Homo sapiens: one gene and its partners. The protein of the gene in region 1 purifies or fractionates together with the protein of each later gene. This does not show direct contact. Each region holds a gene or a part of one and is shown in the gene's direction. Other genes may lie near its edges.

The links.
Region 2: the proteins of ALDH3A1 (region 1) and RCCD1 purify together in Homo sapiens (co-immunoprecipitation; 3 studies listed by BioGRID and IntAct, with this or other methods). This does not show direct contact.
Region 3: the proteins of ALDH3A1 (region 1) and SERPINA12 purify together in Homo sapiens (affinity purification with mass spectrometry; one large-scale study listed by BioGRID and IntAct). This does not show direct contact.
Region 4: the proteins of ALDH3A1 (region 1) and IL37 purify together in Homo sapiens (affinity purification with mass spectrometry; one large-scale study listed by BioGRID and IntAct). This does not show direct contact.
Region 5: the proteins of ALDH3A1 (region 1) and ACVR2B purify together in Homo sapiens (co-immunoprecipitation; one large-scale study listed by IntAct). This does not show direct contact.
Region 6: the proteins of ALDH3A1 (region 1) and CDSN purify together in Homo sapiens (affinity purification with mass spectrometry; one large-scale study listed by BioGRID and IntAct). This does not show direct contact.
Region 7: the proteins of ALDH3A1 (region 1) and AZGP1 purify together in Homo sapiens (affinity purification with mass spectrometry; one large-scale study listed by BioGRID and IntAct). This does not show direct contact.

What each region holds. Positions count from the first base shown.
Region 1 is NC_000017.11:19,741,151-19,745,321, reverse strand, and holds part of ALDH3A1 (aldehyde dehydrogenase, dimeric NADP-preferring), read left to right. Parts: exon of another isoform or gene 1-187; 5' UTR 188-192; coding exon 193-354; exon of another isoform or gene 355-1,752; intron 1,753-1,858; coding exon 1,859-2,090; coding exon of another isoform or gene 2,091-2,691; coding exon 2,692-2,777; intron 2,778-3,109; coding exon 3,110-3,318; intron 3,319-4,111; coding exon 4,112-4,171. UniProt on the Homo sapiens protein: ALDHs play a major role in the detoxification of alcohol-derived acetaldehyde. They are involved in the metabolism of corticosteroids, biogenic amines, neurotransmitters, and lipid peroxidation.
Region 2 is NC_000015.10:90,957,598-90,961,139, forward strand, and holds part of RCCD1 (RCC1 domain-containing protein 1), read left to right. Parts: intron 1-6; coding exon 7-128; intron 129-2,302; coding exon 2,303-2,401; intron 2,402-2,730; coding exon 2,731-2,901; intron 2,902-3,427; coding exon 3,428-3,457; intron 3,458-3,542. UniProt on the Homo sapiens protein: Plays a role in transcriptional repression of satellite repeats, possibly by regulating H3K36 methylation levels in centromeric regions together with KDM8.
Region 3 is NC_000014.9:94,502,970-94,506,469, reverse strand, and holds part of SERPINA12 (serpin A12 precursor), read left to right. Parts: intron 1-2,247; exon of another isoform or gene 2,248-2,437; intron 2,438-3,500. UniProt on the Homo sapiens protein: Adipokine that modulates insulin action by specifically inhibiting its target protease KLK7 in white adipose tissues.
Region 4 is NC_000002.12:112,909,502-112,914,142, forward strand, and holds the start of IL37 (interleukin-37), read left to right. Parts: upstream 1-1,663; 5' UTR 1,664-1,747; intron 1,748-3,461; 5' UTR 3,462-3,511; coding exon 3,512-3,593; intron 3,594-4,290; coding exon 4,291-4,353; intron 4,354-4,641. UniProt on the Homo sapiens protein: Immune regulatory cytokine that acts as a suppressor of innate inflammatory and immune responses involved in curbing excessive inflammation.
Region 5 is NC_000003.12:38,470,442-38,474,612, forward strand, and holds part of ACVR2B (activin receptor type-2B precursor), read left to right. Parts: exon of another isoform or gene 1-1,099; coding exon of another isoform or gene 1,100-1,148; intron 1,149-4,171. UniProt on the Homo sapiens protein: Transmembrane serine/threonine kinase activin type-2 receptor forming an activin receptor complex with activin type-1 serine/threonine kinase receptors (ACVR1, ACVR1B or ACVR1c).
Region 6 is NC_000006.12:31,114,153-31,117,683, reverse strand, and holds the end of CDSN (corneodesmosin precursor), read left to right. Parts: intron 1-154; coding exon 155-1,659; 3' UTR 1,660-2,597; downstream 2,598-3,531. UniProt on the Homo sapiens protein: Important for the epidermal barrier integrity.
Region 7 is NC_000007.14:99,965,985-99,970,056, reverse strand, and holds the end of AZGP1 (zinc-alpha-2-glycoprotein precursor), read left to right. Parts: intron 1-1,626; coding exon 1,627-1,902; intron 1,903-2,770; coding exon 2,771-3,054; 3' UTR 3,055-3,327; downstream 3,328-4,072. UniProt on the Homo sapiens protein: Stimulates lipid degradation in adipocytes and causes the extensive fat losses associated with some advanced cancers. May bind polyunsaturated fatty acids.

The sequences.
Region 1 (4,171 bases):
CAGCCAGGGCCCAGGCGTCTGAGTGAGGGGCGGGAGAGGAGGCGAGGCAGAAAGTGGACCTTCCAGCGGAAAGGCCATTTTCCCCAAGGCCGAGCCCAGGGAAGTCCCTTCCTATAGAATTCAGGCAGGGTGGGAGGCAGGGCGCGCTCGTGCCCCTCAGCCAGCTGCAGGTGCTCTCTGTCCCCAGGCGCCATGAGCAAGATCAGCGAGGCCGTGAAGCGCGCCCGCGCCGCCTTCAGCTCGGGCAGGACCCGTCCGCTGCAGTTCCGGATCCAGCAGCTGGAGGCGCTGCAGCGCCTGATCCAGGAGCAGGAGCAGGAGCTGGTGGGCGCGCTGGCCGCAGACCTGCACAAGGTGCTCAGGCTGGGCGGCCGCCTTCTGCCAGTGTCGGGGCCATGCGATGGGGCGTGGGGGGAGGGGCTGGGGAGAGTGCGACCCAGAGAGGTTCAGGAAGGACTTGGGGCCACCTGGCCCCTCGGTCGCGGAGACTGGGCGCACCGCCCTCCCCTCCGCCGCGCCCCGCGCGCCCCCGCCGCCTCTTCCGCCCTCTGGCCTTTTCCTCCTGGCCCGGCCTCCGCGTCCCGCCCGCAGCGTCCCCCATTTCAACTTCCTGCTGCCCCGACACCCTGAACTTCTGGTCCTCCCCATTCCTCAGCCCCACGCAGGACCACTTGGTTCTCCACACCAGGAACCAGAGCAGCTTGGCACCCCGGAGGGCATGGGGGGCTCTCCCCTCCCTCCCAGTTCTCACAGGGGCTGTTCCGTCCCTCACCCTGAGCAAGACCAGACACCTCTGCATTCGCAGCCCCCTGCTGTCCCCACATGCTGCCTGGGGTCCAGCGCTCCGGAGCCCATCCTCCCACCGACTACCCTCTTTGCTCCTGCACTTTTATTTTTATTTTATTTTATTTATTTATTTGAGACAGAGTCTCGCTCTGTCGCCCAGGCTGGAGTGTAATGGCGCGATCTCGGCTCACTGCAACCTCCGCCTCCCGGGTTCAGGCAATTCTCCTGCCTCAGCCTCCCCAGTAGCTGGGACAACAGGCGTGTACCACCATGCCCGGCTAATTTTGTATTTTTAGTAGAGACAGGGTTTCGCCATGTTGGACAGGCTGGTCTTGAACTCCTGCCCTCAGGAGTTCCTCAGGAGGAGTTCTCGGCCTCTCAGAGTGCTGGGATTACAGGCATGAGCCACAGCGCCGGGCCTGCTACTGCACTTTTCAAGAAATGGCTCAGGACTTCTCATCTTAAACCAGAAACAACAAGGAAACCCATTCTGTTGACTTTACAGCTTCTGTGTTGCTCTTCACAGCCCAAGTTTATAAAAGAGACGCGTTTTCCGCCGTCTGCATCTCCTCTTCTCACCCCTGCTCCCCACAGGAGGCCCTGAGCGCCCAGCAGCCCTTGGTCCTGCATCCCCCTCCAGACAACTAAAGGGCCTGGCTCCCTCCACCCTGCCCGGATCCAGCTCCCAGTGCCCGAATCTATCCCCCCTCCCCGGATCCATCCCCCCCTCCCCGGATCCATTCCCACTGCCTGAATCTACTCTCCCCTGCCCGGCTCTATTCCCCCTACCTGGATCCATTCCGTTGCCCATGCCTGGTCCCTTCACCGGCTCTCTCCCCTGGGGCCGCAAACCTACCTGGGCCCCCCTCTGGCAGAAAGGGGTCCTCTCAGACCCACAGGTCCAACGGCTAATCCTGGCTCTGCTTCCCCTGGGAGCCTTCTGCGGCTGCCCCCACCCTGGGCTGGGTGAGTGACCCCCATCACCCTGGCAGCTGAGCAGTGGGGCTCCCCACTCGCCCCAGCTGCAGGCGGGCCCTGGCCCTGGAAGCTCACTCCGGCTCTGTCGCTGCAGAATGAATGGAACGCCTACTATGAGGAGGTGGTGTACGTCCTAGAGGAGATCGAGTACATGATCCAGAAGCTCCCTGAGTGGGCCGCGGATGAGCCCGTGGAGAAGACGCCCCAGACTCAGCAGGACGAGCTCTACATCCACTCGGAGCCACTGGGCGTGGTCCTCGTCATTGGCACCTGGAACTACCCCTTCAACCTCACCATCCAGCCCATGGTGGGCGCCATCGCTGCAGGTGCATGGCCCTGTGGGAAGGGAAGCTGGGGGAGCACCGTCCCCCAGCGTGGAGCCAAGCCAGGATGGGCTCAGGCCTGTGTTAAGAGTCCTGGGGTCAGATAAGGGTTTGCTGGGTCTGTCACAGGAGGCTGTGGGGACCAAGCTGTTTAGCCAGGCCTCTTGGTGCCTGAGGTCCAGTCAGGCTCAGGTGTCCACACCTGGTGATACAGAGAGGGCCTGCCTTCCCCCACCCCTGTTGGGGGGCTGGAGCTTCTGTCACCTAATATGCATCAGGGCTTCCTTCCTAGAATGGGCCAGCGCTGTTCTACCAACCGGGCCCCCAGAGCCTCTCTCCCCTTTCTGCTTTTCCTCCAACATCTCAGCAACTCAGAGGGCCAGGTGGTGCAGCTCTGGCCAGCGTGTGCCCGTGTGTGTCCCTCTGTCATGTGCCCGTGCGTGCTCCTGGGTGTGCCCCGTGACATGTGCTTGTTTGCTAACAACTCTTCCATCCACTGTCCCGAGGACACACAATGGAGGGGAGGCTTCAGGTGTGGTCCTTGGGAGGGCAGAGCCTCTGGTGAAGTACCCTGGGCATAGGCCTGGCTCGGTGTGCTCTGCAGGGAACTCAGTGGTCCTCAAGCCCTCGGAGCTGAGTGAGAACATGGCGAGCCTGCTGGCTACCATCATCCCCCAGTACCTGGACAAGGTGAGTTGCCCTCCAGGGCCTCGTAACTCCATGGCCTCATAACTGAGCTAGGGCCAGGTCTTTGGGGGGTGAGAAATAGTGAATTCTTGCAGCAAGGGGCCAAGCTACTGGTGGGGCTGAGGATTGTTCTTAGCAGCTGCCCTCTCTCATTGGGGTGAACAGAGCCCCTGGGCCAGGAAAGGCGGTCTACTGCCAGTTACTGCTACCCCCCGCCCAAGGTGGGGTGCTGAGCTTCGGGGCTGCTGGTCTTGGCCACTGCAACTCACCCACACTTGCAAGAGCGAGGAGGGGCTTGGTCTTTGCTGAGCCTCCCCTCTCTCCTTGCATGGAAGGATCTGTACCCAGTAATCAATGGGGGTGTCCCTGAGACCACGGAGCTGCTCAAGGAGAGGTTCGACCATATCCTGTACACGGGCAGCACGGGGGTGGGGAAGATCATCATGACGGCTGCTGCCAAGCACCTGACCCCTGTCACGCTGGAGCTGGGAGGGAAGAGTCCCTGCTACGTGGACAAGAACTGTGACCTGGACGTGGCCTGCCGGTGAGAGGCACGGGCCTGCTGGCTGCAGCAGTCCTTACTCTGCTTTCCAAGCACACATGACTGCACCTCATGCTGTGGGTCCACTCTGAGTAACACAGACACCCCCTGCCTCATGGAGCAGTGGTCCTTGCAGAAACTTACATGGGGGTAGGGGTGGGGACCACATGCACAGAAGACGTGTGGGGAGTCCCAGAAGGCTTCCTGGAGGGGGAGAGGTCTAGGCTGAGCTCTGTTTGCTGAGTGCGCATCACTGGGGAAGTGGTACTCCAAGCAGAGGCTGCAGAAAAAGCAGCTGTGGGACGTTCAGGACACAAGGAACTGTACTGGGTTCAGCCCTCTGATGGGGCAGGGCAATCTGAGTTCTGGAGAGCAGGCCCAGAGGGGAGAAGGGCCACCGCTGCTCGGGGTCTGGGGCAGAACCCGTATCTGCACCTCCTGACCCTAGCCAGGGCTCTGACCACCTCCATATCCCACATCTGTGGCCCCAGAGATGTAGGGGGGCCCGAGTAGCAGTGACACCTGGCTGTGCAGGACAAGGGCGTGATCAGGGAGCACGGAGGTTGCCCTCAACAGACGTCCTCTAGAAATTCCCCACCAGTCGCCGGTGAACATGATCAGGGCCATTGGGTCTGCTCGGTCCAGTGTCTAGAAGTGAGCAGACCGCTTGGGAGGACTCACTGGTGGCAAGGTCACAGCCGATGGCTTCTGCTGACCAGAGAGCTCAGGGGTCTGCAAAACGAGATGCAACTCCTGGGGAACCTTTTGGATTTAGTCCAGTCTGGGATTCTCACAGACGCATCGCCTGGGGGAAATTCATGAACAGTGGCCAGACCTGCGTGGCCCCTGACTACAT
Region 2 (3,542 bases), on another chromosome or scaffold:
GCTCAGGCATGGACAGCTGGGCCATGGGACCCTGGAGGCAGAGCTGGAGCCACGGCTGTTGGAGGCGTTGCAGGGCCTAGTCATGGCTGAGGTGGCCGCGGGGGGCTGGCATTCTGTGTGTGTGAGTGGTGAGTGACTTAGTGCTTCTCCAGACGAGCTCATGATCTTGTGCAAACCTTCCTCCTCGTTTTCCAGTTTGGGTGGGGGCCTACCCAGGCCTCCTTCCAAATTCATCCATCCATCGCCCAGTCAGTTATGACTCCTAAATGCCTCTCACCCTCGGCCTCCTCTGCCTGCACCATGGCCCACTCACGCCTGGACTCTGGCATTTGTTCCTAGCTTCTCTGTTACTGGTCTCACTGCCCCTCCCCTCCTCTCCCCACCTGCTCCCAGCCAGGACTGTCTCTTAACAGTGCTGCCGAGGGAGTATGGAGTGTGAGGGGGCAGCTGAGCCAAGGAAAACGCAGAAACGCTGCAGTTGCCTAGGGGGCCATGATGTGTGGCACAGGGTGGACACTGGGGTGCCCACCAGGCACCAGGATGGTGATGAGTGTGTCCCTGTGGTGGTGCCACAGCTGGCCAGAGTGAGGAGTTTCACTTGGTGATCCAGGTGTAGCTCCTTCCTAGGCTGTTAGAGCCCATGCAGAGAGGGTGAGGCTGGGAACAGATGATCTTTGTCTGTGTCTGGGGCTCTCATTCTGGCTGCTACGTAGATCACCTGGAAGCTTAAAAAATTACCAATGCCAGGGGGCCGGGCGTAGTGGCTCATGCCTGTAATCCCAGCACTTTGGGAGGCCGAGGTGAGTGGATCACGAGGTCAGGAGTTCGAGATCAGCCTGACCAACATGGTGAAACCCCGTCTCTAAAAAAAAATACAAAAATTAGCTGGGTGCAGTGGTGTGCGCCTGTAGTCCTGGCTACTCGGGAGGCTGAGGCAGGAGAATCGTTTGAACCTGAGAAGCAGAGGTTGCAGTGAGCCGAGATCGTGCCACTGCACTCCAGCCTGGGCGACAGAGCGAGACTCAGTCTCAAAAAAAAAAAAAAAAAAAAAAGAAAAGCTACCAGTGCCTTCCTCCACACCATATTCTCATGGAATGGGCCTGGGCTGGTTGCCAAGCTCAGGAAACCCTGGGCTGAGCCTCGCCAACGTGGCAAAACCTCGTCTTTGTACAAAAAATATAAAAATGAGCTGGGCGTGGCGGCTCGTGCCTGTGGTCCCAGCTACTCGGGAGGCTGAGGCTGGAGGATCACTTGAGCCACGCGTGAGTGGAGGTTGCAGTGAGCCAAGATCACACCACTGCACTCCAGTCTGAGTGACAGAGTGAGACTCTGTCTGTCTAAAAAAAAAAAAAAAACAAAAAAAAAAAACCCCAACCTTGGGCTGGAGAGACCAGAGGGCTGGAAACAGCCCAGTGGGACGCCCTGCACTCAAGGTCCAGAAGGAGTTTGAGGCCTTAAGTTTAGTGTAGAGGCTGAAGCACGGACACATCCCACCAGACTTCCTAGTTTCAGATCATTGCTCGGGCCCTGGGACCTCGGGCCTGGTACTTAACCCCCTCTGTGCCTCAGTTGTGAATAAAATAGGGATCCTGCGTAAATGGTGATATTGTCATAAAACCACCTGTAGGGCTATTGTGAGAATTAAGTGATTATATTTGAAAAGCATGTGAAACATCAGCATGGATTAAGCACTTCATAAAGCAGCTATTGTTAGAAATTTTTAGAATTAGGCAGCTGTTCCAACCAAAAAGCTCCAGTGTTGTGGGAGGCCAGGAAGGGGAGAGCTGCACGTGGCTTTCATCAGGACCGGCTGTGGGTGCAGTTGAAAAAGGGGCACAGGCCGGCCCAGTGGTTGTTTTATTTACTTATTTAGAGACAGGGATTTTGCCATATTGCTGAGGCTAGTCTCGAACTTTTGAGCTCAAGTGATCTACCCATCTCAGCCTCCCAAAGTGCTGGGTTACAGGCATGAACCAATGCACCTGGCCCTGGCCCAGTGGTTTTGAAAGGGAGACCACTGCGGTACTTCTAGGGATACATTTCTGAAATGAGGGGCTATTTGGCAGCATAAGAATGGAAGTAGAAGGTCCAGTAAGGGACTTAAAGGGTGATCTGAAGGCATTGAGGGGATGTGAACCTAAGACAAGCCCCTGGGGCCCGAGGGGAAGCGCCTTGGCCTGGAGTGCTACCTTGGGCAGGGCAGGCTTTAGTTGTCCCCAGGAGCGGATGCGATGGGGAGGAGAGTTTGGATGGATGCAGGGGCTTCACAGTCTGTTTCATGTGTCCCCTTGATCTCTTTCAGAGACTGGGGATATTTATATCTGGGGCTGGAATGAATCAGGGCAGCTGGCCCTGCCCACCAGGAACCTGGCAGAGGATGGAGAGACTGTCGCAAGGGAAGGTGAGGGTCATCTCGGCTCCCACAGCCGTCTCCCCAGGATGTGGCTGTCATTCCTAACTCCTGGCTGTATGCTGGCCTCAGAGCTACACTGCTCAGATGGAGCATGTGAGCCCCTTATGGGAGGGAGCATTGGCAAGGCTGATGCCGGTCTTGGCACAACACACTTGTGCAGCAGTGCCAGCCCTGCCTGCAGAATGTAGGGGTTGGGAGCACCAGCTTTGGAGCTAGGCAGTCGTGTACCTCAGAGCTGTTGTGGCAATAAGTGACTGCATGAATAAGATTTAGCTCAGGGCTCAGTTGGTGTTCACATCATTATTATCATTCTGAAGCCACAGAACTGAATGAAGATGGTTCTCAGGTGAAGAGAACGGGTGGGGCTGAGGATGGAGCCCCTGCCCCCTTCATAGCTGTCCAGCCCTTCCCGGCATTACTGGATCTCCCCATGGGCTCAGATGCAGTCAAGGCCAGCTGTGGATCCCGGCACACAGCTGTGGTGACACGTGAGTGGGGCTGGGAGGCACTCTGCTCCACTCGAGCTGGTGCCTACGGAAGGGGGTGTGGTCGACGGAAAAACTTCTGTCTTAAGGCTTCTGTGGCTCATACAGAGCAGCTACCTTGCTCAGTGGATAAGCCCCAACCCCCTTGTTGTTTCACAGTAGTTCCCCAGCCTGTCAGGCCCAGAAGTTTCTTCCTTCTGGTGGGAGGCTGATGCTTTCTGTCCTCCCTGCACGGCCACAGACACATTCCCTGCCCGCCGCCGCCTCTGACAGCAGGGACTGTCCAGTCTGGCATGGAAGACTGCGGCGCTCGGTAGCATGGCACACAGGAAGATCCGCCACTTTTTCCCTCGGGATCCTCTGCCATGCCACGTGTGATCAGCCAGTTGTTAAGAGAATATGTTGTTCCATGCCAGGCAGATCTCATGAGGATTGTAATATGCTAGCTGTGGGCTGTGCCAAGCTGGGCTGGACAGATGCCTTGCCAAAGAACCGTAGTGACAACTATCGATTGTCCTTTTGCTTTCAGGAACAGGGGAGCTCTACACCTGGGGCTGGGGTAAGTAAAAGGATTGTTTTTGTGACCCTGAAACCAAGGAGAAGAAAGACCTGGGAGTACAGGGCAGGTGACAAAGCCAACAAGA
Region 3 (3,500 bases), on another chromosome or scaffold:
TATGACACAGTCCAGAGCACCCCAGCTAGGATCAGGTGCCTCTTGTGTGTTCTCACCTCCCAGAGTTACCTCTACCTTGGCCCTTACCTAGTGTGACTTGTATCTCTGTGTTCTGTGTTCCCATCAGACCAGAGCTCTTGGAGTTAGGGTGTGGCATGGTCACTAACATGTTTCTTCCATCTGGGAGATCCAAAGAGTGAGGATGAGGACCAGAAATTCCTAGCTCCCCTCTCACCCCTACACATGGCAATAATGTAAAAAATATTCAGGCCACCCCTCAGCCTCCGACCAGTGCCTTAGGCCCATTAACTTATAACAATAATCTTCCCAGGCTGGACAATCTCCTTCATCCTTCTAGCCCCTGATGAACACCAGGCACAAATCCATGGGACCTGAATCTTAACTACAGGCAGTCGGGGCAGCCTCAAGTCTAGGCTGAGGTCCCTTAATGGGCACGTGAAGGGGGCTGCTCCCTCCCATGCCTATATCCTTCACTGCTCTCCACAGACGTGCACCTCCTCCGGGGCTCTTTTCCCCAGGCAGGACAGGCAACTCCCAACCCAGGTGTAGCGCCTGGCTGGCCGGCAGCCCACCTGTGGCTACCCTCTGCCCATGGCCTACTGGCCTCTGGCACTGTCTGAACTCAGGCATCCCCAGTGCTGCCCGTGTCGCTCAGTGGGCATCCCTACCCTGGCCTCTTCCTGCATGTCTCCCGTGGAAATTTACCCTGGAGCAGAGAGTGTCTGGGGCAGGCAGGGAGGCATGGCCCTCAGACTCACACAGGCCTCACCCTGTCATTAGAGGGCAGGTTTTCCCTCCCAAACCAGATGTACAGACCTGGATTCTGGGTCAGTGTCCACCTCACTGGCTCTGATCTTCCACCACTATAGCCTCTACAGTCACAATAGGACCACCTGTACTCCTTGGTCTCAGCCTGTCCTTCTGTCTCCTCTGCAACCCCTTGGTGACCAGAGCCGGCCAGTGTGAAGTCTCTCATCTCGCCGTTCACATGGTGTCTTTGACCCATGCATCCCAGCAGGCAGGCCTTGCTGCCTGGGCGAGGGAAGGTGGTGGCTCAGGGGCATCTTCAGGGGTGGTTTCTGATCTGGGCAGCTCTGGAACCCATATCCCCATGTCCTTGTTCATCTAGGCCCTGAGTGCATAGAGTCTGTGGCTGAACCAGGCCTGGGAATGAACTAGTGTCTCCTCTTTCCAAGAAGGTTTGTCTGGGTCACCTGCTCTGAATAGCTCTGGGAATGAGAGTCATGTCTTTGCTAAAAGCAGCAACCCAAAGGAAGGGAAAACAACACCCATGGCTCTTCCGAGGCCTCCGAGGTGTTTCGATCAGATACGACCTACTGTGAAACACCACTCAATGGGGAAGAAATATGTGAATGTTTTTTCTGCTCACTGGAGCTCATTAGATTAAGCAGAATTGAAGATAGGCATGTTGAGCTTATTGCTCTTCCATCCCAGCATCAGTGGGTTTGGAATGTTCCCAGACATCTTCAATGCTTCTCTCTCCAAGTGGTAAAACTGAAGATAAGAATTTTATTTTATTTTATTTTAAGCCTTTGAAAAATTAATCCTAAAGTAATATCTGTTTTTTAAAGACAATTTGGAAAATATAGAAAAGTAAGGGGGAGGCAGAGACAACAGAGTTCAGCCATAGTCTCATCACCCCAGCACAAGAGAACCCAACCATAGTCTCACCACTCCAGCACAACAAATGTGCAATAGGAAAACAATTTGTAATTTCCATGATCATGAACTTTGAGGTGAATTTTTAATTCCTGTTCTTCCTAACGGAATCTACGCATTTAGTTGTCTATTTGTCTGTCCTCGAACTTTTTCCCCAAAGGACTCCATGTGAGCTAAGCTAATTTGGAACACATGAAAAAATAGCAAAAGAAAATGGTGAGGGATACATGGGAATGACCCCAAGAAGCCCAGTTATCAACCTGTTCCCATGGGCAGCAATGATGATACTTGGGTTGAATATTCAGTATTAGGACTCTAGGCTCATCTACTTGTAGACTATTCTGGCTTCCATACCCAGAGAGCAACTGGGAAATAGAGTCGTTGCAAAAGGTGTCTAGTGGACTTCATTAGGGAAGCCACAGCCCAGTGGGTGTGGCCGGTACGATATCATGCCGCTGCCTCCACAGGGAGAGCTCCCAGGGAGGTGGTGTGGCCATTGCTTCCAAAGCCTCCATCACCTGCCCATACACGCCAGCTCATTGTATTGGCCTTACTCTTCCAAGAGGCCATGGAAGTATAAATAATAAAGCAAGAAAGGCAGATGCATTTGGCTGGCTCAGTGGACTTCTGAATGTACTGTGAGTATGAGACCTTCCCTTCCAAAAGATCCGGTGCTTCTTGTCTATTCCACACGAAGCTTGCTTCAGATCGAGGGAGGATGTAGCACTGTCCACAGGTGGGTGTATGAAAGGAAAATTCTAGAGGATCTCCAAAATCCAGGTAAACCCCTCTTGAAGAATTTGTTGAACATCTTTGGCAGAGTGTTATGGATGTCTACTGCCCAGTGCTTTTCTAGAGAGAGAAGCTTCATGAATGTGGGGATGGGAGAAGTCTTGGGACATAAGTGGTGCCTCCAATTTGGGTCCACCCCTGCTGCATGATGCTGGCCACAGTCATCCTTGTGTGTGAGCTGTTTGTGAATCTTTATCTCTCTCTGAGGATAGAGGCTGGATCCATCAACTCACTGGTTCATGGAGAAAGTGAGGCGAAGCAGCCTGTTCAATGCATTTCTGCAGAATTGCCTTCACCACTGATGCACACTGCAACCACAATCTCTTCCTTTGTCCACTCTGGGCCTCATTTCCCTCTTTATGGCACAGATAGTCCTGAAGTCAATGATCTCTCAGCCTTTCCAACCCACATACCCCTCCTCCTAGAATGCAGTCACGGAAGGGGAGGAGGACCAGGTCAGGCAAACAGCTGGAAGGTTCTTGAGGGTTTGGAGAAGGCTGTGGGGCTTGTTGGGCTGAGAGTCAGTCTGCAGCATCAATATGGACCATTTCCTGGGCATTGCTCTAGTGCCCCAGTGCCTGACACAGAGTGAGGACTCAAACATATTTCTTAAGGAATGAAGGCAGAAATCTACAGGGCAAATTAACAAGTGGAATGGGGACATGTTCTCCACTCTTTGTTTTCCAGAAAGGAGGAGAAAGTATATTGCTGTGGTCATCAGAGTTTGTTTATGGGGCTTCTCTTACTTCTAACAGGGGAGAGAAGATATGTCTTACCACCACTTAGTTCTAAATGTGCTTTTAAAAATAATAATTTAATTTCTGATGTATATAGAGTGATTTCTTCTTAAAGCAATATCAGTCCTTTAAAACAGGTGAGCCACAGAGCAGGCCTGAAGTGGCTCTTCAAGTGCAGGGCTCTTGTGAGGGTCTTCTGTTGGGAGGCCAAGGCACACCTTTAGCAAGGATTCCTCAGATTTCTCAGCCCAAAGAAGGGCACCGGGTTTA
Region 4 (4,641 bases), on another chromosome or scaffold:
ATAAAGGCAAGAGTTTATGAATACTCCATACTACACTAGGTAGCACCCCCTATTAAAGACAAACTCTTCTCTCTCATTTCCCTTCCTTTCCGGAACCACTTGGTTGAATCTCTACAAGTCTCTATTGCAACTGCCTCAACATGGCACCCTCCCTGCATCTCCATCTTCCCTGTCCTGAGAGCAATGGCCTGCTGCCCCCACACTCACATCCTCATTCATTCCAGAAGTGAGCACCACAGAAGTGCCTACAGTTACCCCAACCACCTTCTTAGAAGATAAGTTAGTGTTTGTTTTGACTTTTTAAAATTTTTACTTCCTCTTTTCCTTCACAATCTCATCCCATCCCAAGAGGTTTATCAAGAAGTTCTCTAAAGATATGTGTCTCCTTATGGAATTTAACAGAAATCAGGGATTTGTATTCTAGCCATCAAGGGAATAACATTTTTCCAGGTCTTTAGACAAATAATGGAATACCTTGCAGTAATTAGATACACTATTGTAGAAAAGTATTGATGAAATGGAACGATGTTTGAGATATCATATTGAGTAGAAAAGGCAAGATACATTAAGTAGGAAATGTATCTTACAAAATAATTTGTCAGACACACTCCTATATTTGTATGTTATATAAATGCGTATGTGAAGAAAGGCTAGAGGATGAGACCACAGTCTTCGGTGAAGTTTAAGAGATGAGGCTGCAGCATGCTCAGAAAGGCCTGGGTTATAGTTCTTCCAGTAATTAAGGATGTGATCTTGGGTAAATTGTCCATCCTCTCTAAACTGCACCACCTTTTGTCTGTAAAACAGGAAGGATGGTATTTACCCCCAGGGTCATCAAAGGATTTGGTTGGAGAAAAATAAATAAATGGGCTGAGCCCAGACCTGGCACAGTGAGAGCACAGTGGTTGACTATTGTGCTGGCCTGTTGTTCCTGTGTTATTGACATGCTGCTGGTGGTGGTCCAGAAGCTATTACCTTAATTGGTTATGTGGATTTCCCCTCATACTGAGCAGCTGTGTGTGGTGTTGTAAAACATAGCCATACACAGTAACTGACAAGGGCAAATGTGATGGAAAAATGCAAGGAAGTGCAGATAAATAGCTAATGGGCTGTAGAAGGAAGCTAGTCCTTGGAGGGCTTGATCAAGGAAGGTCCTTTTGCATGTCACCTTTGAAGAAGAGGGGACATAGAAGAGGTATAGTGCATCCCGGAGTGTACCTGGAAGGGAACATGAAAAGAGGACATTTTTCTCTGGGACATGGGGACTCCACTTGCATGAACTCTGGAATTGGGGCAAAGAACCATCATGAGAACAAGGGCTTCCTTGAACCTCCCAGGCTCATTGGCTGATCTAAACCCTGTGTCCCCTCTTTCCTTCACTCTCCTCTGTTTTCTATACCTGTATTATTGGACTGGACTGGAAGCCACCTGATCTATCACAAGTACCTTGAAATGTGTTGAATAGGTGTGGCACAGTCCTTAGCAGAGTGGCACTACCCCCACAGGAATTTGTTTATACCGTTGGCATGGAAAATAGCAGGAAATGAGTGATCACTGATAACTGAGGATGCTATTTATTATTGGCCAAAGGAATACTTGTGTTGTATTTGCATAACCACTCACAAACTGTTGATTACAAATGAGTACCAGACCTAGCTCCTTCAAGTAAAGGATCCTGAGAACTGAAGGCAAACAGAGCTCCAGGAGTCCAAGACAGAGCCACAGACCACGAGGATCCCTGGCCCAGGTAGGTGGTCCTCCTGCACTGGCTTTCAAGGCCAACAGGATGGATGGGGAAGTAGAGTAGCATCTGGCCATCTAGACCCTTGCTTTTTATCCCCACTGGAAGCACATCTGAATTTCTAAATATGATCTCTGAGACCTGCCCAGAACACCTTGCTCTCAGCCCCAGTAGCAGCCTGCTCTCTCCCAGGAGGGCTTCCACTAACAAGTAGGGCATTGCTGGAGGGCCAGGCAGACACTAGCTTAGGAAATCCACCAACCCTGGAAATGCTAGTCCCTTCTCTGAAGGCTCAGAAGACTGACTTTAGAGTCTAGAAAATATTGGTCCTTGGGAACAGATTTTGAGTGCAAAGAGATGGACTTCAGATGGCCAGATGCACTGCTTCTTTAGGGAATTCTGTGAAAGCTCCCTGCATTTATCTTAATACAGGCAGCAGATTTCATGAGTACCCCCGAGGGATGGCCCCAGGTCCTCCAGCCTGTGAGCATCCTTCTGTCCTTCAGCAGCACCACAGTATCTTTATATGTCTTTGGATACCTACGTTTCTGCCAGACATCTCTTGCTCTGATGTTCTGGCTGCCAAATTCTCTGTCAAGCGCCTCCAATTTTTTGTGTCCTTTGATTTACCCCAACATGACAAAGGCAGTTGTGCTTCATGTATTCAGGGATACTGCCAAACCACAAACAGGTTAAAATCAAATAGCAGATATCCCTGTTCCTAAAGACCCATCAGCTCTACCCACCTGCTCCTGCTCACCGTCCTTATTGTTGAGTCCTGAAGCCCTTCCTTGTCATTTTTATTTTTTGCATGAACAATTTAGTTCCCTTTGTCTCACTCCTAAACCTTTCTCAAAGGATTGGATTTGTACACAAACTGCCTATCTCTGCAATCTTAGAAGTGATATGATTCTGAACAAATCACTTAACTTTTGATTTTTTATCGGTAAGATGGGAATACCAATTTTTGCTCCACTTCTGTCCTATGTTGGCCTGGGCTGATGTTGAAAGCTCTCGGTCAACTGAGATAGGGTGTGCAGAATTTATATATATAAATATATCTCCTCCAACCCCTCCCAATGAAGCAAGTCACGTGAGTCAATCCTACCCTAAGATATTAGGGATTGAGCCTCCTGGGACATTTGGTGGCTTAGGTTTTCATGAAAAGAGGTTGCAGAGCAACTGCTTTTTGTTAGGCAAAGATTAGGCTACTGCAGAGACTCAGCAAACTTCTATAGAAGGTGTCAGATGGTAAGTATTTTAGGCTTTGCTTGCCAGATGATCTCTCAACTAGTTAACCATGCTATTGTAGCCTCGAAGCAGCCAGAGACAATATGTAAACAAGAGCATGGCTGTGTTTCAATAAAACTTTATTTAAAAAAACAGTCAGGGACCGGATTTGGCCAAAGGCCATAGTGTGCCAGCCCCAAGACTAGAGCAATGCACTTTTAACTTTTTTATTTTATTTTTGTAAAATGCCAAGATCCACAAAAATGCTATTGCACCCCGTGTGTTAGCACTGTGACTCAAGGTTTGGGAAATTCTGCTTTGAAGGCGTGATAGACAGGAGAGCATGGTCTGGCCCCTTGGTGCCTTTCTGGTTGCAGCGAGCATTTCAAACTACAGAGCAAGGCCAGTGGTCTGTTCAGCACTAGAGACATGCAGCAAGGTGTCCTGGGGTGAGAAGATGCCATAACTGGTCCCCTTTCTATCTCCTTAGGTCTTGGACTTCATTCCATTTTCTGTTGAGTAATAAACTCAACGTTGAAAATGTCCTTTGTGGGGGAGAACTCAGGAGTGAAAATGGGCTCTGAGGACTGGGAAAAAGATGAACCCCAGTGCTGCTTAGAAGGTAAGGTTCTTGTAGAAATCTACCTCAGGGCCAAAGTGTAATTCCTAGAGCAGAACTTTGCTAGGTGCTGTGCACAGACCCAGTTGTTTCCTGCTGACTTGCACAGTAAGTGAGCTTTCAAATTTCCCTGGACAAATAACTAGACAAGAGAAATTCTGGAAGGGAAAAGGAAGCTTTGCTTCAGTGTCCAGGCACATCAGGTAGTAGATAAAAGGATCGTCCTCACCTACAGATTTGGGGCTTTAGCATCCTGTTTGCCAACTGGATGGTTGCATATGCTTCAAAATGCACCTCTTCCCTCCCAACATTCCCAAGTGGAAGAGAAGCCTCCGATGAGAAGCAGCTCTCTAAGGCTGGGCTGAACAAATGACCCAGGCACAGGGCATCTGAGTATTCCATGAGGAACACATTTGGGTGTTGCCCATGGGGGACAATAGGAGGAGGCTTTTGACCCAAATGATTGTCTACTGAGGTGTGACGGGAGAGGCCTGTGACATGCCAGAGGCCAAACCCGTGATCCAGTTCATCTCTATTCTATGTTTCTGAAGAGGGAAGCTATGATTTAATGTCATTACTATCATGCTGCTCTAGTATTTCTCAGCACATACACAGAAGAGGGAATTAAATGGTCTTTGATACCCCTAAATCCTTGGAAAATCCGAATTGCATATGCTAACCTCACTGCGTCTGACTGCAGACCCGGCTGGAAGCCCCCTGGAACCAGGCCCAAGCCTCCCCACCATGAATTTTGTTCACACAAGTAAGGCCTCGGGGTGAGGTGATGGGGGTGGCTGAGGTGCGAGGGTGGGGATGGGGGATGGAGCCATTGGGTCCTCTTACAGGGTGGGAGAATTGTAGAATGGGGACACCTAAGGGTGCTGGATGGGGCTGAAGTCTTTCCTTTGTGGAAGCAAATCCCATTAGGAGATAACTCTGGGAAAGATGAGCCCGGGGAGGGGCAGGTGATGCTCACCTGCTAAGAGGCACAGGGCAAGGAAGAGTTTGTGCCTGGGAACCTTCCAGGTGCCTCTTCTGACCATAGCCAAGA
Region 5 (4,171 bases), on another chromosome or scaffold:
AAATTTTATGTTCATCTAAATTGCCATTCAGGAAGAAAGACAAAACATTTTGAGAAAAGCAACAAAGGCTCCTCTGCCAAGAGATCTCTACTGAAATATTTTTTTTCAGTAAGGACAGTGATCTCAGAAAGAAAGGCAGAGATGCAGGGAGAGATGACTGTATGGATGCTTACAAAATATAGACACAAATAATGTCTGATTTGGGAGCTGGGTAGTAAGAACAGTGACACTAAATACGGAACACAAGCAATATGTTAAATTAGATGTACATTGGAAGAGTCATTAGAGTTTAAAATATTTAAGTTCCAATGAGGGATGGTAGAGATGTTGATTTAGGCTTTTAGTATAAGTGTACCCATTAAAGTTTATAGGCCTAGCTTACAACGGAATAGGAATGAGATGTATAACTTTAAAAGTGGCTAAAATAGGAAATTTTAAAAGATAATCCAAATAGAGGTAACGGTAGAAAAGAAACAAATTTAAACATACCCAGTAATCATATATATAAACATACCCAGAAATCATAAATGTAATGAGACCGAACTCTAATTAAAAGATGGTGTTAGATTGAATTGGGGGGAGGGAAGAGAGAAAGATTTTTTGTTTAAGTTAGAAAAGGTAATTTTCTCTAATACTAACACACGAAATGTCATATAGCTATGTTAACATCAGATAAAATGGACTTTTTGGCAAAGAGCATTCATTACAAATGAAGAGGGTTACTATATAGTAAGAAAAATTTTATTACCAAGAATATATAAAATAATTTCTGTAACTCAAAGGAAAAGTAATCCAGTAGAAAAATGAGAAAAGATACAAACAAACAGTTCTCAGAAGGAAATGTTAGTAATCACAAGAAGATGATCAGTCTCACAAGTAATCAGGGAAATGCAGATCCAAATTGTGTACCATTTCACACTCACCAGGTGAACCCCAGGTGGGGGCTGTCATCTGTTGGGAACTTGGATTGGCACATCCACTTTGGAGAACAGTTTAACAGTATTTAGTCAGTTGATCTTTAGACTCTATGACCTAGCCAAGAAACGCCCACACATGAGTGCACACACACACGCACACACACAAATGTAAAAAAGAAGTCATGATGGCATTGCTGAGATCAACAAACATAAATAACCTGAGTCCAGTAGGTGAGTGGATACTTAAAGTTATGTGAGGTTATAAGCTTCTGAAATAAATGCACTTCAGGGCTGCAGGAGAGGCAGCAGTATATAAAGAACATGCACTCTAGAGACAGGCTGCCTGGGGTTTGAAGCCTGATTTTGACACTTAATAAGTAACTTGGGTAGGTTACTTAATCTCTTTGTGCCTCAGTTTTTATAAAATGAGGACCTGCACAGGTTTATCGTGAGGATTAAATAAGTTACTCTTTGCAGAATGCTTAGAATAGGACCTGGGATGTAGTGTGAGCTGTATAAGTGTTAAATTAATGCATATCAACCTGGATGGCTTACAAATATATGGATGAAGGACAAAAAGCATATGTATTAGAGATTGTATTTGGTTGCTAGAAATAGTCAAGAGTTATTCTCTTGGGTAAAAGAAATGCAAAGACACAATGTTGGAATATTTTGGGTTTTTTTCTCCCCTATTGTACATGCCGCTCCACAGTGTGCATACACGTGTGTGCATGTGTCAGTGTCTTTATCTGTTATACACTCCAGCCTTCCTTCCTGGCCCCATCTGTCTCTTCAGGTTCCCTCCATCTCTACACCCCAGCTGCCCTTACTCTGCTGCTGGGGAGGTGGTGGAGATGCTGCTTTGTGGAGCTGGGGGCTGTGGAATCATAACATGGATAAGTCACTGCTCTTGGCCCTCCTTCGCTCTTATGGAGGGACCTGCTAGGGCTATAAAGGCAGCTGAGCAGACTCAGGGCTGCCTTTCGAGGGGTGCTGTCTGTGGGGAGAGCTGCCTTTCCTCTCTGGGCAGATGTGAAGGCTGGACACCAGAGGGAGAACACTGGCCCTCCTGAGATGTTCTTGCTTGTCTTCCTCTTGGGCATGGAGGCTTCTGGCAGGGTGTGCCTCAGTGTGCTGGCAGAAGCAGACCTAGATAGATGTAGTGGTGAGTGGCACTCCTTCTCACCTGGTGAGTGGCACTCCTTCTCACCACTACAGTGCCCACAAGGGTGGGGCTGGGCACCTGCTCCCTGGGGTAGGTGGCTGCCAAGGGGCCTCCAGGAGCCAACTGAGCAGTGGTTCTGCTGGCTGCTGGGGTCACAGTTCCTCTAGGAGACACTGGCTGGACTGGGGACACCCAAGTGCAGAGCTCAGGGACTCCAGGGGAGGTGGGCATGGACACTCCACCTCTGAACCATCTCCTCTTCTTTCTCTCCCCATTGCACTTTGAGCCCCTCACAGATGGGACCTTGGTGAGGTTTCTCCCTTTTCTCCTCAGGGCATAGTGGGTATGTCCAAGGCCTACTGGACTGAGCTGCTTCATAGGAGAAACGAACCTCCCAGTATTTGACCTCCCAGTGCGTGTCTTCGAGCATCCAAACTAGCCGGCTTAGGTTCTGCTACCAGGAATGTTGGTTCAGAGTGCAGTCTGCATGTACTGTGTGTGTGTATGTGCATGTACTGTGTGTTTGTGTGAGGGTCGGGGGTGGTGTATGTGGGAGTGGTCCTGCCAGGAGGGATGGTTTGGGGAGCACTGGGTACTTTCTCTCTACTGGCATTAGGCCCCTTGGAGCATAGGGACTGCCCCTTGGGGACACTGCCACTTTTATTTCAGCTTCCTTTGGAGGCCAGCAGTTGGTTTGGCTGTGACTCAGGGATGCAGCAAGCCCCTTGTCCTGGTGTCTGGGGGCCATGCTCACTTACCTCAGGGCTATGAAGCAGCAGGCCTAAGGGGGTACCATAAGCACCCGCATCTTGGGAGCATGGCTTCTCCTCCTGCCAGGTTAGGCGAGTGGGCTGGGGGTCAAGGGGAGCCTCCTGTGCATGGATGCCCTGGCTTCCTGGGTGTGGGTGGGAATCTGTATCTATTAAAAGGCAGAGGTGGCCTGTGGTTGGAGTATTGCCAGAGGCTATAAATAGCTGAGTGTGTGAAGAAGGAGAGTCTGGGGAAGAGAGAGGAATGGGGGAGGCCCCTGGGTCTCCAGGTGGCAGCAGAGCCCTGTGGTGAGGGAGGGGCATGGGCTCTGAACATAAAGCTCTTGTAGGCATGGTGTGACTTGATGGGCTGGGAGTCATACAGGGGACTTGTGTTATGAGGGATTGTCATAGGCAGTAGGGGATGGTTGTGGCTGTAATATAGCCAATGTGCCAGGCAGTGTTCTAACCACTCTTAAAGTGCATTAACTCAATTAGTTCCTACAACTACCCTAGCTGTGAAGTATTGGAGTAGGACTTGAAGTCTGGCCCGCTCACGGCTGCCATTTTTCGCTGGGTTGCCTGTAGGAGGATCTGGTCAGATGGGGGTCAGGTGACATCTTTTTGAAATGGAGTCTTGCTCTTGTTGCCCAGGCTGGAGTGCAATGGCACGACCTCAGCTCACTGCAACCTCCGCCTCCTGGGTTCAAGTGATTCTCCTGCCTCAGCCTCCTGAGTAGCTGGGATTACAGGTGTCCGCCGCCATGCCTGGCTCATTTTTGTATTTTTAGTAGAGACCAGGTTTCACCACATTGGCCAGGCTGGTCTCGAACTCCTGACCTCAGGTGATCTGCCCGTCTCAGCCTCCCAAAGTGCTGGCATTACAGGCGTGAGCCACCGTGCCTGGCCCAGCTGACATCTTGAACCCTTGGGTCCTCTGAGATTTGGAACTCCCAGCCTCTTCACTTGGGTACTGCCCATGGTAGTGGCAAGTGGGTGGTCCCTGACTTATCAGTGGCCTGGAGAGAGGAGGTTACTCTGTTGGCCTCCCTTGTTTGGGCTCCTGCCTCAGCACAGAGGCTTGTTGCTTGTCTGAATGGAGATGGAAACTCTTTGAGGACCTAGGGCTTGGGCTGCAGGCTGAGGCCATCCTTGTTGTCCCCTCCTTTCGACATGTTGCTCTAGCCATGATACCTATACCCTTCTGTCCTTCTGTCTGTCCACCCATCCATCTATGATGTGTTTGGAATGATTCTGCCACTTAGGACGGCAAGGGTCCTGCCTTTGTCGGCTTTCCAGTCTTGTGGGGAAAGCCTGACATTTAGAAAGTAGTTGTCGAG
Region 6 (3,531 bases), on another chromosome or scaffold:
ACAATAGCCAGTTCTTCCTCCTTTCTCCATCCCTAAACTCTCCCTGCGCTCTGCTTGGGAGAAACCCGAGAGGCCGATGACTGAGATAAGGCAGAAAGGTGAGGGAGGAAGCCAAGCCTCCTTGGCCCTTACTAACCACTGCTTTCCTCCACAGGGACCTTGGCTAAGAGCATTGGCACCTTCTCAGACCCTTGTAAGGACCCCACGCGTATCACCTCCCCTAACGACCCCTGCCTCACTGGGAAGGGTGACTCCAGCGGTTTCAGTAGCTACAGTGGCTCCAGCAGTTCTGGCAGCTCCATTTCCAGTGCCAGAAGCTCTGGTGGTGGCTCCAGTGGTAGCTCCAGCGGATCCAGCATTGCCCAGGGTGGTTCTGCAGGATCTTTTAAGCCAGGAACGGGGTATTCCCAGGTCAGCTACTCCTCCGGATCTGGCTCTAGTCTACAAGGTGCATCCGGTTCCTCCCAGCTGGGGAGCAGCAGCTCTCACTCGGGAAACAGCGGCTCTCACTCGGGAAGCAGCAGCTCTCATTCGAGCAGCAGCAGCAGCTTTCAGTTCAGCAGCAGCAGCTTCCAAGTAGGGAATGGCTCTGCTCTGCCAACCAATGACAACTCTTACCGCGGAATACTAAACCCTTCCCAGCCTGGACAAAGCTCTTCCTCTTCCCAGACCTTTGGGGTATCCAGCAGTGGCCAAAGCGTCAGCTCCAACCAGCGTCCCTGTAGTTCGGACATCCCCGACTCTCCCTGCAGTGGAGGGCCCATCGTCTCGCACTCCGGCCCCTACATCCCCAGCTCCCACTCTGTGTCAGGGGGTCAGAGGCCTGTGGTGGTGGTGGTGGACCAGCACGGTTCTGGTGCCCCTGGAGTGGTTCAAGGTCCCCCCTGTAGCAATGGTGGCCTTCCAGGCAAGCCCTGTCCCCCAATCACCTCTGTAGACAAATCCTATGGTGGCTACGAGGTGGTGGGTGGCTCCTCTGACAGTTATCTGGTTCCAGGCATGACCTACAGTAAGGGTAAAATCTACCCTGTGGGCTACTTCACCAAAGAGAACCCTGTGAAAGGCTCTCCAGGGGTCCCTTCCTTTGCAGCTGGGCCCCCCATCTCTGAGGGCAAATACTTCTCCAGCAACCCCATCATCCCCAGCCAGTCGGCAGCTTCCTCGGCCATTGCATTCCAGCCAGTGGGGACTGGTGGGGTCCAGCTCTGTGGAGGCGGCTCCACGGGCTCCAAGGGACCCTGCTCTCCCTCCAGTTCTCGAGTCCCCAGCAGTTCTAGCATTTCCAGCAGCTCCGGTTTACCCTACCATCCCTGCGGCAGTGCTTCCCAGAGCCCCTGCTCCCCACCAGGCACCGGCTCCTTCAGCAGCAGCTCCAGTTCCCAATCCAGTGGCAAAATCATCCTTCAGCCTTGTGGCAGCAAGTCCAGCTCTTCTGGTCACCCTTGCATGTCTGTCTCCTCCTTGACACTGACTGGGGGCCCCGATGGCTCTCCCCATCCTGATCCCTCCGCTGGTGCCAAGCCCTGTGGCTCCAGCAGTGCTGGAAAGATCCCCTGCCGCTCCATCCGGGATATCCTAGCCCAAGTGAAGCCTCTGGGGCCCCAGCTAGCTGACCCTGAAGTTTTCCTACCCCAAGGAGAGTTACTCAACAGTCCATAAGAAGTCAACTGTTGTGTGTGTGCATGCCTTGGGCACAAACAAGCACATACACTATATCCCATATGGGAGAAGTCCAGTGCCCAGGCATAGGGTTAGCTCAGTTTCCCTCCTTCCCAAAAGAGTGGTTCTGCTTTCTCCACTACCCCAAGGTTGCAGACTCTCTCTTATCACCCCTTCCTCCTTCCTCTTCTCAAAATGGTAGATTCAAAGCTCCTCTCTTGATTCTCTCCTACTGTTTAAATTCCCATTCCACCACAGTGCCCCTCAGCCAGATCACCACCCCTTACAATTCCCTCTACTGTGTGGAAATGGTCCATTGAGTAACACCCCCATCAGCTTCTCAACTGGGAAACCCCTGAAATGCTCTCAGAGCACCTCTGACGCCTGAAGAAGTTATACCTTCCTCTTCCCCTTTACCAAATAAAGCAAAGTCAAACCATCATCTGGAAACAGTGGCCACTTTTCACTGACCTTTCTTCGACATCTAGTCAACCCACCCAATATGCCACTGGGCTCTCGCTCCCAATTCCACCCCACCCTCCATTACAGAGCTCACCACGCCCTCCTAGATCACCGTCCCCAACACACCCATTGCCTCTCAAGGCCCTTATCTCAGCCCCTTCCTGTGGCCACTTCCCTCAGTGCTCAGATGATTCCCTGGGTGAGGGAGACACTGGGGCACCCTCAGAGGTTGAAGCAGGCTCCCTGCTGTCCCTGGATCCTGGACAGATGGCTCAGTAAACTGTGGGGACTAGGTGCAGACTTTTTGCCTTCTTGGAGTCCTGGGTCTCCTCTGAGAGTCTGGGTGGTGCTCTTCCTACGCCTCTAGAGGTCTCTGTGTTCCTCATTTTCCTTCAAAAGCGGGCTGTGTTTCTCTTCTACCTTCCAGCTGCTCCCACAGAGGAGGAAGACAATAAATATTTGTTGAACTGAAAGCAGAGATTGCCTGGCCTCCCAGATCCTTCCGCCATTTCCCTCCTCTCTCATTGCTCCAGGAAATCCATTCTCTTCCCATTCCTCATTCACCGTGGGGTCCCCCTTCCCCTTATTTAGGGCCCTCAGTGTTTCCTCTCCCTCCCCTCCCCTCCCCTCCCCACCCAAACTCCTTTTCTTCCACCATTAGCATTCCTCACCTTCTAGATGCCATCCTCTCTGGGAGTCATGAGTCTCGATTTCCTGGGTTTCTGGGACACCTGGAAGCTTGGGAAGGCTGGGACACAACAACTCCAACCAGATTCCTGTCAGCTGAGTAGGAGGCCAGTTGGGCGTTGTTCCTGGAGCTGGGGGTGGAGAGAGTAAAGGACTGAGAGGATGGGAGCAGGGCAGGGAGTGCAGCCAAGCAGGGTGACTCACTGGCCTAGATCAAGAGGCCCAGCCTGTGGCAGAACAGAGCTGCCGGTGGTCTCTCCATCTTCACACTCCCTGCTCTGCTGGGGTCCAGAGTGAGAGTGTGAGCAACATGGCTCTCAGGTGAGGGCTGAGAAGGCAGAGTGCCCCAGTGGGAAAGAGGAGTCGCTTCCACTGGAGAAGAGAGAGAAAGTGGAGTGTGTGGTGGGGTCCATGCGACTTAAGTCCTGAGACAGGCAGGGAGAGGCTGAGGCGGACGAAGTTCCCGCATCCCAAGGAGGGCAGAGTGGATTGTGCTTGTCCCTGTAGGAGCCCCACCCCCCACCCCAGGCCACCTCTCAGAGCCTCTGCTTGGCTGCAAAGGAATTCACCCCTACTGTAGCACTTAACCCATTCCCTCCTATCAGGGTGGTGCTGTCTGGTCCTGAATTTAGAACTGTTGAAACTCCAAGTCTGGAATCAGCAAAAATGTATTACATTGACCAGAAAGGGATTGAATCACCCTTGGTCCAGCATCTGGCCCCT
Region 7 (4,072 bases), on another chromosome or scaffold:
GGTGGGGGGCTGGGGAGAGACCTGGGACGTGAGCCCAGACAGCTTGAGAGCTTTCAGAGTCTATGCCAACAGCACCAACCAGTGCTGGGTAAACACCTGCTTTTATCATCAGAACAAAGAGGCTGTGTCCCCTGCCCTATGAGGTCCATTTCTGAGAGTTGTGGCTAATGGGCAAGAAGGTTGGGGCTTTAGAGATTTGGGATAAAGATATCAAACACCAGAAAGGTAGAAAGAAGTGATCAGATTAGGGTTACTTAGGTGATGATATGAACTCTTCCTAGAACTGAGAGAAAAAGAGAGCCTTCCTTTACTCATATGAAATCACAAATAATTTCTATCCAATTTGGAAGTACACTTTGGTGTAGTTGTGACAGCTTCCTCAGGACTCAGCATAAATTCAAACAAATAATTGTCCTTAGAAGAGATGCTATAGAAGAGATAGAAATATATTCATATTCTGTAGCTTTTTTTTTTTTGAGATGGAGTTTTGCTCTTGTCACCCAAGCTGGAGTGCAGTGATGCAATCTCAGCTCACTGCAAACTTTGCCTCCTGGGTTCAAGGGATTCTCCTGCCTCAGCCTCCCGATAACTGGGACTACAGGCTACAGGCATGTGTCACTACTCCTGGTTAATTTTTTTTTTTTTTTTAAGACTGAGTCTTGCTCTGTCTTTCAGGCTGATGTACAATGGCTCCATCTCGGCTCACTACAACTTCTGTCCCCCAGGTTCAAGCGATTCTCCTGCCTCAGCCTCATGAGTAGCTGGGATTACAGGCATGTGCCAGCACACCCAGCAAATTTTTGTATTTTTAGTAGAGATGAGGTCTTACCATGTTGGCCAGGCTGGTCTCAAACTCCTGACCTCAGGTGATCCTTTGGCCTCAGCCTCCCTAACTGCTGGGATTACAGGCATGAGCCACTGCGTCCAGCCTAATTTTATATTTTTGGTAGAGATGGGGTTTCACCATATTGGCCAGGCTGGTCTCGAACTCATGACCTAAGGTGATCCATCCTCCTCAGCCTCTCAAAGTGCTGGGATTACAAGTGTGAGCCACTGGGCCTGGTGCTTTTTTTTTTTTTTTTTTTTTTTTTTTTGAGATAGGGTCTCACTCTGTCACCCAGGCTGAAATGCAGTAGTGTGATTTTGGCTCATTGCAGCCTTGACTTCCCAGGCTGAAGTGATCCTCCCACCTCAGCCTCCTGAGTAGCTGGGGCTACAGGCATGCACCACCATGCTGCGCTAATTTTTATATTTTTTGTAGTGGTGGGATTTCGCCATATCACCCTGGCTGGTCTGGAACCCCTGGGCTCAAGCGATCCACTCGCTTCAGCTTCTCAAAGTGCTGGGATTACAGGCATGAGCCACAGCGCCCAGGCTGTAGCTCTCTTAAGGAGGAACATATCTCATCTGAGACAAACCTGAAATGCCAAACCAAACTGAGTTAGCCCCTCTCTGTCTGTTGTATATATTGGAGTAATAACCTATTTGTCTTGATAAAGGGATTGCATGCTTGAATTGCAAAAACCTTTATTTCTTTTGGGTTGCCCAATGTGCAAGACTAAGAGTTATTTTGATAAATTTCTCACCAGGCTGACTGTCTCTCTGTGGGGTCGGGGGAGTTTTCAGGGTCTCACGTATTGCAGGGAAGGTTTGGTTGTGAGATCGAGAATAACAGAAGCAGCGGAGCATTCTGGAAATATTACTATGATGGAAAGGACTACATTGAATTCAACAAAGAAATCCCAGCCTGGGTCCCCTTCGACCCAGCAGCCCAGATAACCAAGCAGAAGTGGGAGGCAGAACCAGTCTACGTGCAGCGGGCCAAGGCTTACCTGGAGGAGGAGTGCCCTGCGACTCTGCGGAAATACCTGAAATACAGCAAAAATATCCTGGACCGGCAAGGTACTCACTGCTTCCTGCTCCCCAGTACTGAGCCCAGAATAAAAGACGATCTCAGGCTAGGAGCTCAGGCAACATCTTAGTCCGGTCTCATCTGTTCCTGGATGTCCCTCAGACCCCCAGCTTTCATCTTTTAGGATTTATTCCTTCCCTGGGATAATATAATTTGTGGTCCAAAAAGAACATCATCAAAATTTCAGGCAGAATGGGCCAGGAAGGCCATTCTTTCTTGATGAGTGTCCCCAAATCATCTCCAATTAACAGACAAGGAGCTTGAGGTTAGGGAGGTGAGGGTAACACTGTCTGTAAGAGGCAGAGCTGGGACTCAAATTCCAGATTTCAGATTCCAAATCCCATCGTTTTTTATCTCTACAATGATGCCTCCCATCTGGGTGGTGGAGAGAAGGGAGGCGTGTAAAATGTCAGCCCCAGAAGGACAAGAGCAAGCCAGTGTGAGCGGAATTGATGGCTGCAAGCTGAGACTTGGATTGGAGACGTAGTGAGACTCAGGATTGTGCAGTGCTGCAGGGAAGTGGTTGCTGGATAGAGGCATGGGCTGAACCAAGCAGCTGGACTGAGACTGGGGGACAGAACTCCAAAGCCCACTGAGATGTGGGAAAACATGGAGAAGCACACGGAGCATTCACAACTTATTGCCGTCAGAGTCAATACATGGGTGAGGTGGGGATTGGGCAAGAGGGAAAGCGTCAGCCTTCCCTGATATTCTGGAAAGTCTCCCGGGGCTGGGGGTGGGCAGGTACAGAGCTTCGAGCTCTGCTGATCGCTGACATCCAGGGGTGGGGGTAGGAAGAGACCTGGGCCGGGAGAAGTCCACCTCAAGCCTGCAGTGTCACACTCTATCCCTCCACAGATCCTCCCTCTGTGGTGGTCACCAGCCACCAGGCCCCAGGAGAAAAGAAGAAACTGAAGTGCCTGGCCTACGACTTCTACCCAGGGAAAATTGATGTGCACTGGACTCGGGCCGGCGAGGTGCAGGAGCCTGAGTTACGGGGAGATGTTCTTCACAATGGAAATGGCACTTACCAGTCCTGGGTGGTGGTGGCAGTGCCCCCGCAGGACACAGCCCCCTACTCCTGCCACGTGCAGCACAGCAGCCTGGCCCAGCCCCTCGTGGTGCCCTGGGAGGCCAGCTAGGAAGCAAGGGTTGGAGGCAATGTGGGATCTCAGACCCAGTAGCTGCCCTTCCTGCCTGATGTGGGAGCTGAACCACAGAAATCACAGTCAATGGATCCACAAGGCCTGAGGAGCAGTGTGGGGGGACAGACAGGAGGTGGATTTGGAGACCGAAGACTGGGATGCCTGTCTTGAGTAGACTTGGACCCAAAAAATCATCTCACCTTGAGCCCACCCCCACCCCATTGTCTAATCTGTAGAAGCTAATAAATAATCATCCCTCCTTGCCTAGCATAACAGAGAATCCTTTTTTTAACGGTGATGCGCTGTAGAAATGTGACTAGATTTTCTCATTGGTTCTGCCCTCAAGCACTGAATTCATCTGAAACTCTTGGTTTCCCCTGGAGGCCATGGTTCCTGGGCACCTTGACCTGGGCAATCCCAAGTGTGGCCTGAACCCCCTTTCCCTTGGGGATTGTTCAGGTGTCCCTAGACGCCTTGTGGTATTGTACCTAATACCCATGAAGGGAGAGGATGATATTACTTGCCAGTGTACACCCCCCTGTGATATTGTTCATAATGTCCAGAGTGAAGAAAGATGATATTACTCCCAATATCACAGAAGGTGTACACCCCCCCTTGATATTGTTCCTAATACCCAGTTGGGGAGGGGAGAATATCTCTCCCAATATACAAGGGGTGTTTAAACTCTCTGTGATATTGTTCCTAATATTCAGGGGGGACAAGGATGATATTACCCAAATATTGCAGGGGTTGTACACCCCCCCTTTGATATTGTTCCTAATATCCAGGGGTGGAGAGGATATTACTCCCAATATTGCAGGGGTCTACATCCTCCCCCCGTGACATTGTTCTTAATAACCAAAAGGTGAGAAGCTGACATTACTCCCAATACCACAGGGGGTGTACACCCCCTATGAGATATTGTTCTTAATATCCAGGAGGGGAGAAAATGATATTACTCTCAATAGCGCAGGGAATTTACATCCCCCGTCGTAATCTTGTTCTTAATATTCAG